Linked DNA regions of Homo sapiens: region 1 is linked to region 2. The links come from fine-mapping of genetic effects on gene expression. Tissue or cell type: adrenal gland. Region 2 holds a variant in brackets; the other region holds the start of a gene. All regions are shown on one strand. Distances are between the middles of the regions.

Evidence for each region. PIP is the estimated chance that this variant, and not a neighbour inherited with it, causes the effect.
Region 1: CHMP3 starts here. The variant in region 2 is fine-mapped to the expression of CHMP3 in adrenal gland (GTEx, PIP 0.99).

Annotation. Positions count from the first base shown.
Region 1 is chr2:86,560,968-86,565,967 of GRCh38, forward strand. CHMP3 (charged multivesicular body protein 3) reads right to left here and starts at 2,476. Exons shown (of 6, transcript NM_016079.4): 1 at 2,337-2,476. The coding sequence starts at 2,381. All of the region lies in intron 3 of RNF103-CHMP3 (RNF103-CHMP3 readthrough), which reads right to left. It overlaps CHMP3-AS1 (CHMP3 and RNF103 antisense RNA 1), which reads left to right and starts at 1,103. Exons shown (of 6, transcript NR_183901.1): 1 at 1,103-1,280; 2 at 1,879-1,953; 3 at 2,301-2,432; 4 at 2,721-2,815; 5 at 3,010-3,173. RefSeq lists enhancers at 1,902-2,071, 2,082-2,181, 2,339-2,633, 2,792-2,851.
Region 2 is chr2:86,417,126-86,424,982 of GRCh38, forward strand. No RefSeq gene overlaps it. Among named protein-coding and RNA genes, the nearest start is that of KDM3A, 20 kb to the right of the region's middle. The variant G/C (reference allele first, on the strand shown) is at 4,244.

The DNA of each region.
Region 1 (5,000 bases), 140 kb after region 2:
TGCTCCCATGATCCAATCACCTCATACTAGGTCCCACCTCCAACACTGGGGATGACAATTTGACATGAGATTTGGCGGGGACACAGATCCAAACCATATCAGGTGCCCTATCCAAACCAGCTCTTAAAATGTTTATCTTACTTGCTAGAAGTTAAGTTCTTTGGCTTCTTATTTCACCTTTATAATCCCTCTTTGGGAGGTAGTATAAATGGCATGATAATTCTAAGTATAGGCCTTAGAATACATAACCTCTGGTGCTGTAATTCACAAACTGTATGACCTTGGGCAAATTACCTAAATACTGTATGCCTCAGTTGCCACCTGTAAAGTGGAGACAATAACAGTTCCTACCTCATAACATTGCAGAGTGCTTAACACAATGCCTGGTTCAATATGTTAGCTAAAGGTGGTGGTAGTTAGGGCTAATCTTAATTCACTCTACAATCTTGCTACTCAAGTGTAGACCAGCAGCATCAACATCACCTGGGAGCTTATTAGAAATCTCAGACCCTATCCAAGACCTACTGAATCAGATTTTGAATTCTGACAAGATCCCTAATGATTAGTGTGCACACTAATGCTTGAGAAGCACTGCTCTACAATACCCAGACTTGTCCATAATGGGGGGAAAAACAACTAAAATTTTTTATTCAATAAATGATCTTACCTGTTCGGCTCTGGCAAGCATAGTTTTAAAAACCAATCTCATGCATCAACCCTGCCATTTTCCAGTGTCAATCAGCTTTCTCAGGTAGATTACCCTACTGAAGAGTGTACCAATATCGTGTTCTTAGCAATTTATCATTTAAAAACAATCTAAGTGTACAATATACTAGAGTAGTATAGTAGTACATATACTAGAGACTAGTTTAAACAATAAAGCAACCATTTCCCCAGCATCTTTTTTGCTTCTCCATAATCTTATCTCAATTTACGAATGGCAATGCCAAGGCCAAACACTGAAGACAACAAATAATCTCTCCCTACCACACTTCTACAATAACAAGAATCTTAGAATATACAGATGTCACAAAATGTGCATCTATATAATGTTCTATAGTTTCCAAAGTGATGTTATACCGTTATTTCATTTAAGCGCCACAATTTTTATTTTACCAAGGAGCAAAACTGAGTAAGTTTCCTGACGAAAATAATGAGTGTCTACTGTTCTAGGGCCTTTAACAACAACAACAACAAATTTACATTAACGCACATTATGTGCCAGGAATTGCAAGATGCATAAGATTAGTTTTTAAAATGTGCCTGCTAGAGCTGAACAGGTAAGATCATTTATTAAAGGATTTCAGGATTTTTTTTTTCCATTATGGACAAGCCTAGGTGTTGCAGAGCAGTGCTTCTCAAAGCACTGATGTGCACACTAATCATTAGGGAGCTTGTCAGAATTCAAAATCTGACTCAGTGGGTCTGGAGTGGTGTCCGAGATTTAACAAGCTCCCAGGTGATGTTGATGCTGCTGGTTGGCATTTGAGTAGCAAAGCTGTGCCGTATTTAAAGAATTAGCCCTAACTACCAATATGAAAACTTTACATCCCTGAATCTTCAATTACTCTGAGGTGACACTACTATTATTCTGGCTTCACAGTCGAGAAGGCACTGAGAAGTGAACTTTCCAGAGATCACAGAGCTGAGATGTGGGAAGGCAGGATTCAAACTTAGGTTGACTGACTGCAGGGCATTTTCAACTGTTTGCCTCCCAATATTATCTCAATTAATAGGTAACGAGAGTTCGAAGCCGGGTCCAGAGCTATCTTCTGTAACATTCTTCTGGGTCGAGTCCCTGCCCCGCTACGGTATGTGCCTAGGGTCAACACAAGGGCTGGGGAAAGAGGAAACTGAGCCTCTTTTTCAACACAACAGGGAGGACGGAGAACAGACGGCTCCTCCGGCAGACGCGACCCGGCCCGCTCCAAACAACGCTTCGGGCAGGAGAAGGTTCTCCGGGTGGTCCGCAGCCGGGCTGGAGGGGTGGGGCCTACGCTGGGAAAAGGTTCCGGGCGGGTCGTACCAACGCGCGCAGGGGGAAGAGGTTTCCGAGGCCAGGACGGTGTCGCTGCCTACGCGCTCAGTGGCGAGGTGGAGAAACTCTTCATCCACCCTCGGCTACCTGTTCGAGAGCCATGGCACCAGGAGCTCTCGCGTCCCACAGCCGACTCCTAAAGACTCTTCCTCCGGCCCCCCTGTCGAGTGGGAGTCCCCGGAAATGGGGGCCGGGCGGTATCGGGCAGGCGGTGGGGAGAAGAGTGTCCTGTCATTTACCAACTTCACTACGCCCCACACAGATCCACCCGCTTATCTGCCGCCGCCGTAGCCCTTACCAGTTCTTTGGGCGGCTTCTCCTGGGTCTTTCCAAACAGCCCCATGACGAACTGAACCCGTCTTGCCCCTTCCGGCTTTCAGTTCCCCGCGCCCAGGCAGGTCACGGGCAGCCGCCTGGGCGGGGCCCGCGGAAAAGGAGGTAGTCCCAACCCCCAGAGTAGGGAGCGGCGGCACTAGGGGATGTTGCGCATGCGCCATACGCCTGCGCAGAATCGAGTGAGTGGGAGACTAGTCAAAAAGGCTGACGTCATCGCACATGTTCTGGTCATGTCTGTGTGGGGGAGACCACGGATTCGGTGCTTTTCGTAAGGTGTAGAAATGATTGCTCTGAAAGATACGAATTTGTTGGCTACAACTGCTTCTAATACTTCACCTAAACCTAGATGTTGCACCAGAAGTCTGGATCTCCACGCAGACGTGTACACTTAGCATCACTTTCCCGACAGCTTCATCTTTGTGTCCAGTAGGCAACTCACAGGTGACAAACCAAAAATAACCTCTTTTTCCTCCCGCCAACCCACTCCTCCCCTCTGCTTGCACCACCATCACCTGGTCACTAAACCCTAGGCATCGTCCTCTCTCCCCTCTTACCAAGTCCCAACCATTCTAACTTCAATATGTCTGAACTTCAACCCTCCCCTTTCCATCCCAACTGCGGTCGTTTTTTTTCAGGCCATCGCCCTTTCCAGCGTGGGCGATTCCTGCCTAGCATTTGTCCATGTGTGTCCCGTCCTACACGCCACACTGACCGTGAGCTTAATCACACTCTCAAAGGAATCTGACTAAAGAGAACTAGACACATTTTAGCACGGACAGTTCCTGATTAGGCCTATACGGTGAGCTGATGGTTACTGTCATTAACTCATCCGAGGATGGTGAAGGGGACCATTTGTTACCTCAGCCCCATACTCCTGTCTCTGGTGGAATCATAAAATGGTTCGGCAGCTTTGAAAACATTTTGACAATTTCTTAAAATGCTAAACAAAGCCAGCCTTCCATTCCTAGCTATTTACCCAAGAGGGAAAAAAGCATATGTTCTTACAAAGACTTGTACACAAATGTTCATAGCAGCTCTATTTGTAATAGCCATAAACTGGAAACAATCCAAATGTCTATCAACAAGTGAATGGATAAACCAGTCGTGATTGATCCATACGAAGGAATAGTACTGAGCAATAAAAAAGTAAACTATTGATAAATGCAACAGCATGGATGAATCTCAAAATAATTCTGCCAAGTGAAAGAAGCCAGAACCGTATGATTCCATTTACATAACATTCTGGAAAATGCAAACTAATACATAGTGACAGAGAGTACATGGGCGGTTGCTAGCGGATAGGAGTGGGGTCAGAAAGAGGCAGAAAAGAGGGATTACAAAGAGACACGAAGTTTAGGGGGATGATGGATAATATCTTGATTGTGATGATGGTTTCACAGATGTATACAATATCAAAACTTACCAGGTTGGACACTAAGTATGTGCGATTTATTTTATGTCCAATCATACTTCAATAAAGTTGTTTTTAAAAAAGCACTGCCTGTTCATTGTGAAAAGTTAAACCCTCATTCTCACTTCCTCAGGGGAAAAGGTCTCAAAGGATTCACACCAACTATTAAATATAGTGTGAATCTTCTGAAACCTTTTCCTTTGGAAAATATACTTTTATTTTTATTTATGTATTTGTTTTTGAGACCGGGTATCACTTTGTCACCCAGGCTGGAGTGCAGTGGCAGGATCTTGCCTCACTGCAGCCTCTACCTCCCAGATTCAAGTGATCCTCCCACCTTAGCCTCCTGAGTAGCTGGGTGTCAGCCACCACGCCCACTGTGTTTTTAATTTTTCTGTAGAGACAAGGGTTAGCCATGTTGCCCAGGCGGGTCTCAAACTCCTGGGCTCAAGCGATCCTCCCACCTCAGCCTCTCAAAGTGTTGGGATTACAGGTGTTAGCCACCTTGCCCGGGCCTATTTTTACTTAGTTGAGATTATATTATATACATTGAGCCACCTCTCCCAGCCCTATTTTTATTTAATTGATATTATGTTATATACGTTGTCCTACAATTTCCTTTTAAACACATTTTATGTAGACTTTCATCAGTGTCAATACCTATGGCAGTCCATAGCAAGAATGTACCATAATTTATTTAACCATTTCCCTATTATATAAGATTGTTTCTAGTTTTTCCCTAGTAAATAATCCTGCAAATATAGGCACAGTTAAAAATTTTAAACTTAATACCAGTATCTTCCATATACATTGCACTATTGTGAACTCCTACCAATAGTGTATACCAGCACTCTTATTCCCTAAATCCATGCTAAAAGTGAATTTTAGCAATATTTAAAATTTTTGCCAATCTAAGGGCATAAAATATTGTTTTTAACTTTAATTTCCCGGACTATTAGTCTGGATAAGCATCTTTTCATATATTTGTTGGTCATTTGAATTTCTTCTGTGACTTGCTTCTTCATAACCCTTGTTCATTTTCCATTTATCTCCCTCCTTCCCTTCCTTATTTCCTTTCTTCCTTCCATTTTAAAGGTGAAGGAGTTCCTTGAAAATGTGGAATTTTTTTAAGTCTCTTTCACCTTTTTTTGAGAATAAACTATAAGCATTTTTTTCAAGTAGGAGGATACTGGATCGCCAATTAGTCAACAGTAT
Region 2 (7,857 bases):
ATATGGTAAACATATGTTTTTAATAGACCATCTTTAAAAAATACTACATAAATAAAACAATTTTTAAAAATTATTATTATATTCTATTAGTAAGAAAGAGCTCTCAAGCAACCATGAGAAAGGAAAAGAAAGAGAAAAAAACAAAACAAAACATGCATTAGGATGCAGATTCCATTGCTATAAAAGAAACCAAAGTAACAATGGCCTGGACAAAATGTTAGTTTATCTTTCAATTAGGCAACAGTCATGAGGTGAGGGCCACTTCCTTCTGTCTTCAGCATGCAGCTCCCAAAATGACTCCTCCAGTCCCTACTACACTTAAGGTGACCAACCCATCAGTTTGCCTGAAACTTTACCAGTTTTTTCACAGAAACTCCTGCATCAGGAACCCATATAAACTGAGACACTCCAACCTGTATCACTCCAGCTAACTGGAGAGGGAGAAGAGAAAGTGAAGTAGAAATCATGTTTTCCCTTTAAAGAGAAGACCTGGAGGTATATTTACTGTTTCTGTTCTTATCTTATTAGCCAACAGTCCCATGAGCACATCTATTTATAAGGAAGGCTTGGAAATGTAATGTGGAGCTGGACAACTATGGGCCCAGATAAAAACTGAGGATTCATGACTAAAGAAAGGGGAGAATGGCTAGGCAGAGACAACTAGCTGTCTCTGCCAACACACGTGGTAAAGAAAGGTACCAGGACACGATGCAAGTAGGGAGAGATGTGCAAGGAAAAAATGTGGTATGTCACATGTGGTATGTCATTAATTGGTTTATAAGTTTGGTTGTTAAGTGATTATTTCTTCTTTGGATACTTATGATTCACCAGCTGGTAGTAGTGCCATATTAAACAGGTGTCCCTTCCTTCCTTCCTTCCTTCCTCCCTTCCTTCCTTCCTTCCTTCCTTCCTTCCTTCCTTCCTCCCTCTTTCCGTCTTCCTTTTTCATAAGGAACATGACTTTATCAGTCAGGATCCTGGCAGTAGTAGCATGGGTAAGAGATGACTGAGGAGAGTGGAATGAAGGGACTATACACAGGGGAAGGGAAACCACAGGGATGGTGTAATACTCCAGGGCTAGCAACCAGGTAGAACCATTACCACCCCTTGTCTGAAAGGAAGGAGGGGTTATGGGAGCTTGGAAGGAGCAGCTGTGGTTGTTCAGAGGGCCACCCAGCAGGGGCTGTGGCCTCCACTAGAGGAATAAAGTTAACCCAAGACCCAGCAGGGAAAGAAAGAGCCTTGGGAATAAACATTCACCTCTCTCTCCTTCCCTCCAATCTCCTGCCCGACAGGAGGATCAGCCTCTTGGGGCACAGAGAAAGGAGAAGGGCCAATCTGCAGGGGCAGGTACAAAATAGCCAGCAAATCAACTTTTCATTAAAACAGTCCTACTGTACAGTTAATAACTTAAATGAATTAATAAACATTACATAGTTACCTTACCTTTGAAATTAGCCTTAGTATTGTTGATTATAACTTCATTGAATCCAGGCCGGGCACAGTGGCTCACCCCTGTAATCCCACCATTTTGGGAGGCCAAGGTGGGCGGATCACTTGAGGTCAGGGGTTCGAGACCAGCCTGGCCAACATGGTGAAACCCCATCTCTACTAAAAATACCAAAAAAAAAAAAAAAATTAGACAGGCGTGGTGGTATATGCCTGTAATCCTTGGTACTCGGGAGGCTGAGTGGGAGGATTGCTTGAACCCGGGAGGCAGAGGTTGAAGTGAGCCGAGATCACTGCATACTCCAGCCTGGGCAACAGAGCAAGACTCCGTCTCAAAAGCAAACAAAAAACGCTTCACTGAATCCTGGTCTCATATAGATTTGCAATTCCCACCGCAACTCACCTTGAATCTGATTTTGAAACCTGATCTAGGACTCCTGCTTATCCACCAGATTCACTTTGTAGGTTTCTGTCTCTGTTTTCAGTAGGGTATTTTACCATATTATGAAATATATTTTGTTTATCCCTGCAATTATTCCTTTGAGGTAGCTTATTTGATAGCAATGCACTCCCCCTTCCAATAAAAACAAATAAGCCAAACAAAACAAGCCATCTTTCTGAGTATGCATTTATCTGGGGCTTCCAATGAGATGTTTTAAATAGGTTCCACGCTACCAGTAGTTATTAATCTTAAAAAAATCTACTTTTCCTTATAAAGAAGGCATATAAATCAGTAAGACCGGCACTATCTCCCTAACTAATCAATGGACAAGGATATAAATAAATTTTTTAAAAAAGGTAAGAAATATTCAGCTTTACTTGGAATCTAAGAAAATCAGTTTTAAAACCAACCAGGTACAAATTTGTTTACTAGAAAATTCAGGGAGAATGAAAGGATTTAGTATTTCAAAATATTATGCAGCACACAAGAACTGAAAGCACATGCTTCTTGAAGGTCATAATAAGAGGATACAGAACTTGGATAAATTATTTTTTTGGTGAGTTAAAGATACCATAATTGGCACCGTCAAGCTCAAAAACCCATGGAAATAGACTGTGGTGGCCCACAGAAGTAAGCACAGCCACTTTGGGAATGTCCCACAAAGAGCATCTGTGAGTAAGGCCACTGTGTGAAAATGGGGTGATACGTTGGCATGGGTTGCATCCTGAATCTCCTATTTTTCACAGCTCACAGCCAATCCATTGGCAAAGCCTTTAAAATACATCTATAATCTGATCATCTCTCACCACCTCCAGTGCTACCAATATCTCTCACCTGGACCAATAGCCTCCTAACTGGACCCCCAACTTCTGCTGTTGTCCCAAAGAGGATTGTGTTCAAACACGTCAGATCATTATCTGAAAGCCTTCCAGTGGCTTCCCATTTTGCTGAGACTAGAAACCAGAGTCTTGCACTGTCTATAAGGACTGACACTGGCCTTCTGTGGCCTGTTGACCTCATTCCCCTTCACTCACCCTCCTGCAGCCACTCTGGTCTCCATGGGGCATGCCAGGCACACTCCTGCCTTACAGCATGGGCTGGCCCCTCTGCCAGGAATGCTCTTTCCACAGTTACCCACATGGCTTGTTCTCTCACATCCTCAGGTCTCTGCCCAGAGGTCCACCTTCTCACTTAGGAGCCTGTTCTTAGCTTTATTTTTCTTCATAGCACTTTTTACCTTCTGACATTCTGTGCAATAGACTAATTTACTTTTTGCCATCTCCCTACTAGCATCTAAGTTCCAGGAGGGCAAGATTTTTTTCTGTTTTATTAATTATGGCATTCCTAGTGCCTAGAAACAAGGCCAAGCACATAGTAGGTGTTCGGTAAGTCTATACCTATTTCTCCACTATATCTGATAAATACAAAATTAAGCTGTAAGTATCCTTGGGCTGGACTCGCATCGGAACTAAAACAACTTTCCTACCAGTCTCCTATCTCACGGATAGTGTCATCATCTACTCCATGGCTCAAGCCAGAAAGCTGGGAATCATCCTGGATTCCTCCTATACTTTCAGCTCCTCTCTAAGCATCACCAAGTCCTGCTGATTGTTCCTCATTGTTTTCCAGTCCCTTCTATGTCCTTCCACCCTGACTGCCACTAGTCTGGATTAAGCCACTATCATCTCCCCTCTAGATTAAGAAAAGTCTCCCAACTCATCTTCCTGCTGCTCTCACCTCTTCCAATTTATAATTTATGATGTAGTTAATCAAAGGGATATTTCAGAATGCAGATCTGCACAGAGATGCTTAAGCTCCTTCAGTGGTTGCCCCTTACCTTAAGCATATGGTTCATATTCCTTAACATGGCTTAAAAAACCCTTTTCATCTGGGCACCATCTAACTATTTAGCCTCTTTTCTGTAGGCCTACATGCTCTTCCCATGGTATTAAATACTCTCTACATCTCCTCTTTGCCTGGTTTACAGATTTGGTGTCACTTCTTCCAGAAGGCTGGAGCTTTGACAGAACGCTGTACTTCCCTATCATAGCATCCACCACCCACTTTGTCGACTACTCCCACACCCCACCTCACTTACTCACCCTATTCTGTGAGTCCTGCAAGAACGATAATGAAGGCTTGGTGCTCAGCCCAGTCTCAGGGAGTGAGAGATGGCATTGGAGCTATGTCTCAAAGGCAAGCAGGAATTAGGCTTTGGAGAAGGGATGGGTATTCTGGGTTCTCAGTAAAGCATGAGAAAAATCACGAAATCAAGAAACAGCAGCATAGGGATGCGGAAGTACAGCTATGTTCACATTAATCAAGGTTAATATGAGCAGAGGAGGAACAAGT[G/C]GGGAGAGGGACAGAGGAGCTCAAAAGCCATCAAGGGTCTTTAGATTGTTCTTTCCAGCCACTGAAGGGTTTTTGCTATGGTCAGATTACACTTCAGGTGGACCATTCTGGTAGTTTTGAGGATGACACATAGGAGGTCAGGGGAGCAGTGAGGGGATTCCACTTCCCTACAGTACATCATGCATGATGACTATGTCCTCAAATCTTCCTTATCAATGGTTGTAACAGCCAAAACAAGCTTTCAGTTTCAATAATTAAGCCAATAATATGCCTAAGTTTTTATGGAGGTGAGAAAATAGTCATAATAATTTTTCTGTTGGAGAAATATTTAAGATAATCTCTGAATTATTTCATTTTTCATGACACTTCCCCAGTTTTCCAAGGTTAGGTTTTCTACAGCTCTTGTTAAACCAGGAACTAGAAGGAGGAAACTCAAAGAATGGATAAAATCATTTAATTTATTGTGGCTTTGTGATAAGAAATGAGAGGAATGCCTCTCTGACTTTAGGCAAATAAGATAGAGTTCAGAAAAACTCTAGACCAAAATAATCTATCAGACTTAAAAAAAATTCATTGATGGTTTTCACCATGAATTTTCTTAACACCATCTCACTTTTATTAATCCCTTGATCTTACCAGTCCAACTGTGAGCTCCTGGATAGTTTAAGAGTTATGACTCTTTGTGCCTTACATATATGTTTCATATTTCACAAAGTGAACCATCTCTTTCTTGATCTATTTGGATAATTTTTCTTATTCTTCAAAGGAACATGCTGTAATACTTTGCTATTTTTAAATCAATTTTATAAATACTGTGATGGAATATGTAGGCAAAATATGCATAACTAAACAACCTCTTTTCTTTCATTAAAATATTTCCATATCTGCCTATCTATCTAATGTATGTTATTTTATCTAACCCTATGTGGTAGGTGTTAGTGGAATAATTTTATCTTTGAGAAAACCAAGCCCCAATCAAATTAGATAATGTGCCCAATCATCCAGTAAGTGACAAAGCTAGGGCACAAATCAGGGCTTGTGAGTCAAGCCTTGTTCTTTCCATTGTGTAATTGCCTCTCCTTTTGTCTATTATTCTACTAGTGCAATTAAAAGCCTACAGCAACACCATGAATATCACCAAAAGAAAGACCCCTCACCCCCAGGAAAGATCTTAAAGGCTAAAAGGACTCTGTGGGAGATAAACCTGATGACAAAAGTAGAGATCTGAGGGGGCAAGACCCAGAAGCACAGCTGATTGTGGGTATGTTGAGATACAGGTGAGAAAGCTTTGTAGAGTCTTTGAAACACCTCTCAGATTCTACTATTACAGTCTACACCTAAGGCAGAGCCATTATGTTGGATTTATGTTTATTTCACAGGTCATCATTGCTTTACTGCCTGTTTTACTCTTATTTTAGATCTGTAAGCCCTTAGATACTTGATTAGAAGGCAGCAATATGAAAAATAAAATGAGTTATTTAAAAATTCTTAATTTTCTTTGAGTACCTTTATGGTTTCTTTTTTTCCTGGTTTCTCTGACCTTCTGGTATAAGGTGTGAGGTAGGGATTCAACTTCACCTGTTTTCACATGACTACTCAGTTTGTGTTGTGGGACTATTTGTCCTATTTGTAGCCACCCAGTGTCATTTGAATCATATTTCTATACTTGTGGATGTTCTAAAATTGTATTCTGTCTCATCAAAGTAAGGCAGATACAAAGTCAATTCCCCAGCTTCTCCTGTGGCTCTGAAGAAGGTGCATGACCTAGGTTTCATCAACTAGGTATGCATTCACGAAATCTTGATTTGGAAAAAACATCATGAGAAGGCAGGTACTACAAAACATAGTTCCCGAAGAGGGTGATGAAGCACAGCAGAAAAACATGGAGAAGTTAGCAACAGCAACAGCAACAGCAACAGCACAACTATGGTGTGAAGTATGTTGCCAGCACCAGAATGCTGCAGTCATTCCTTTGAATAGTTTGACAGGCTAATTCAGTTTCCAAGTGCTTCACCTCAAAGCCTAACTCTCTGGCCCATCTGGAAAATTTGTAATCTATTAATAATGTTTAATATACTTCTTTTCTGTTAAAACTGTCTCAGATTTTATCCTGTAATTGCAAATTAGAACCTATTAATATGTATCTTGACACCATTTATTGAATAATTTATCTTTTCCTCCACTGAGATGAATTGCACTTTTGGTGGACTTCTATTAGTTTCTGATACTGTTTCTGGAAAGATAGTATCAGGAACCAGATTTACCTTCTTGTATGAAACAACAAACAAACAGAAAAACTAGACAAAATATATGAAACAATGGGGTTCAGACATGACATCAAGTGGGGCAGGACAGTGATCCCTAAGAAAGGCAAAGCAAATAAAGTGAGCCCTATGATTACCCCAGCTTACTTTCTTTTTATTTTTTTTCCCTCCCTTCCTCAGATCCTCAGTTCCATCATGGAGCAACTTACTTTCTTGAGAGAGTTTTCAGGCCACAGTGCAGTATGCAGGAACTCAGGCAAGACCTGGAGGTCTCTCTGAATTGAATAGAGTTGGGAGATTGGGAAGTCTAAGGCACCTAGAGTTCCCACACACAGTGGCACAGGGGAAAGAGTTGCATAAAGAGAAAGTTCTAGATTCTGTAAAAGATTCACCTTGTCATCAGCTAAATACTGATCACAGCATGCAAGTAACTACTCAAAGCTAGAGAAATAACTGTCTCAATGGAATGTAGTCAGCAGAGCTCACAGAAGGCTAGGAATAGTCCATGGTTATACCAGGCAGAGTGAAAAACATCATAACTCAGGGGGCATTGGGTAGAGTCCTCTGAAGGGAAAAACAAGCCCTAGACTAATTGCCTCAATAGTATGGTAAAGTTAGCCCTATTGTAATAGCTGCTTGTCCCAGTTAACAAAGTCAAAAAGAAGTCTCAAAAGGATCCAACTGTTTTTACATAACTTAGCTGCATCTCATAACAAAGCTCAGTAATATTTGAAGGAATATAAGAATATCCAGCACCCAGCAGAGTGAAATTCACAATATCTGGCATTTGATCAAAAATTATGAGACACACTATGCAAAATGTGGAGGAAAAAAGATCAGTCAATTGAAACAGACCAAGAAATGTCAAAGAGGGTAGAATTAGTAGACAAGGGTATAAAAACAATTATTATAAATATCTTATATGATCAAGAAATAGAGGAAAGCATGAGCATATGAAGGAGAGACAAGGAAAATGACCCAACCGTACTTCTAGAGATGACAAAAACCAATGTCTGTAATGAAAAATACCAAGGAAGGGATTAGTAGCAGATTAGACATTATAGAAGAAAAAAATTAGGAAACTTGAAGCCAGAGAAACAAAAAATAATCTAAAATAAAACACGTAGGGTGAAAAGACTGAAAGACAATTTAACAGAACATCAAAGAGCTGTGGGACATCAAATGGTCTAATCTATATCCAATAAGAGTAACGAAAGGAGATGAGAGAGGAGAAAACAAACAACATTAAAGAACCCAAAGATTTTCAAATCATTTGAAAATAAAAAACCTACAGGTCCAAGAAAATCAATAATTTCAAGCATAAAAGCATGAATAAGACTATCTCTAGGC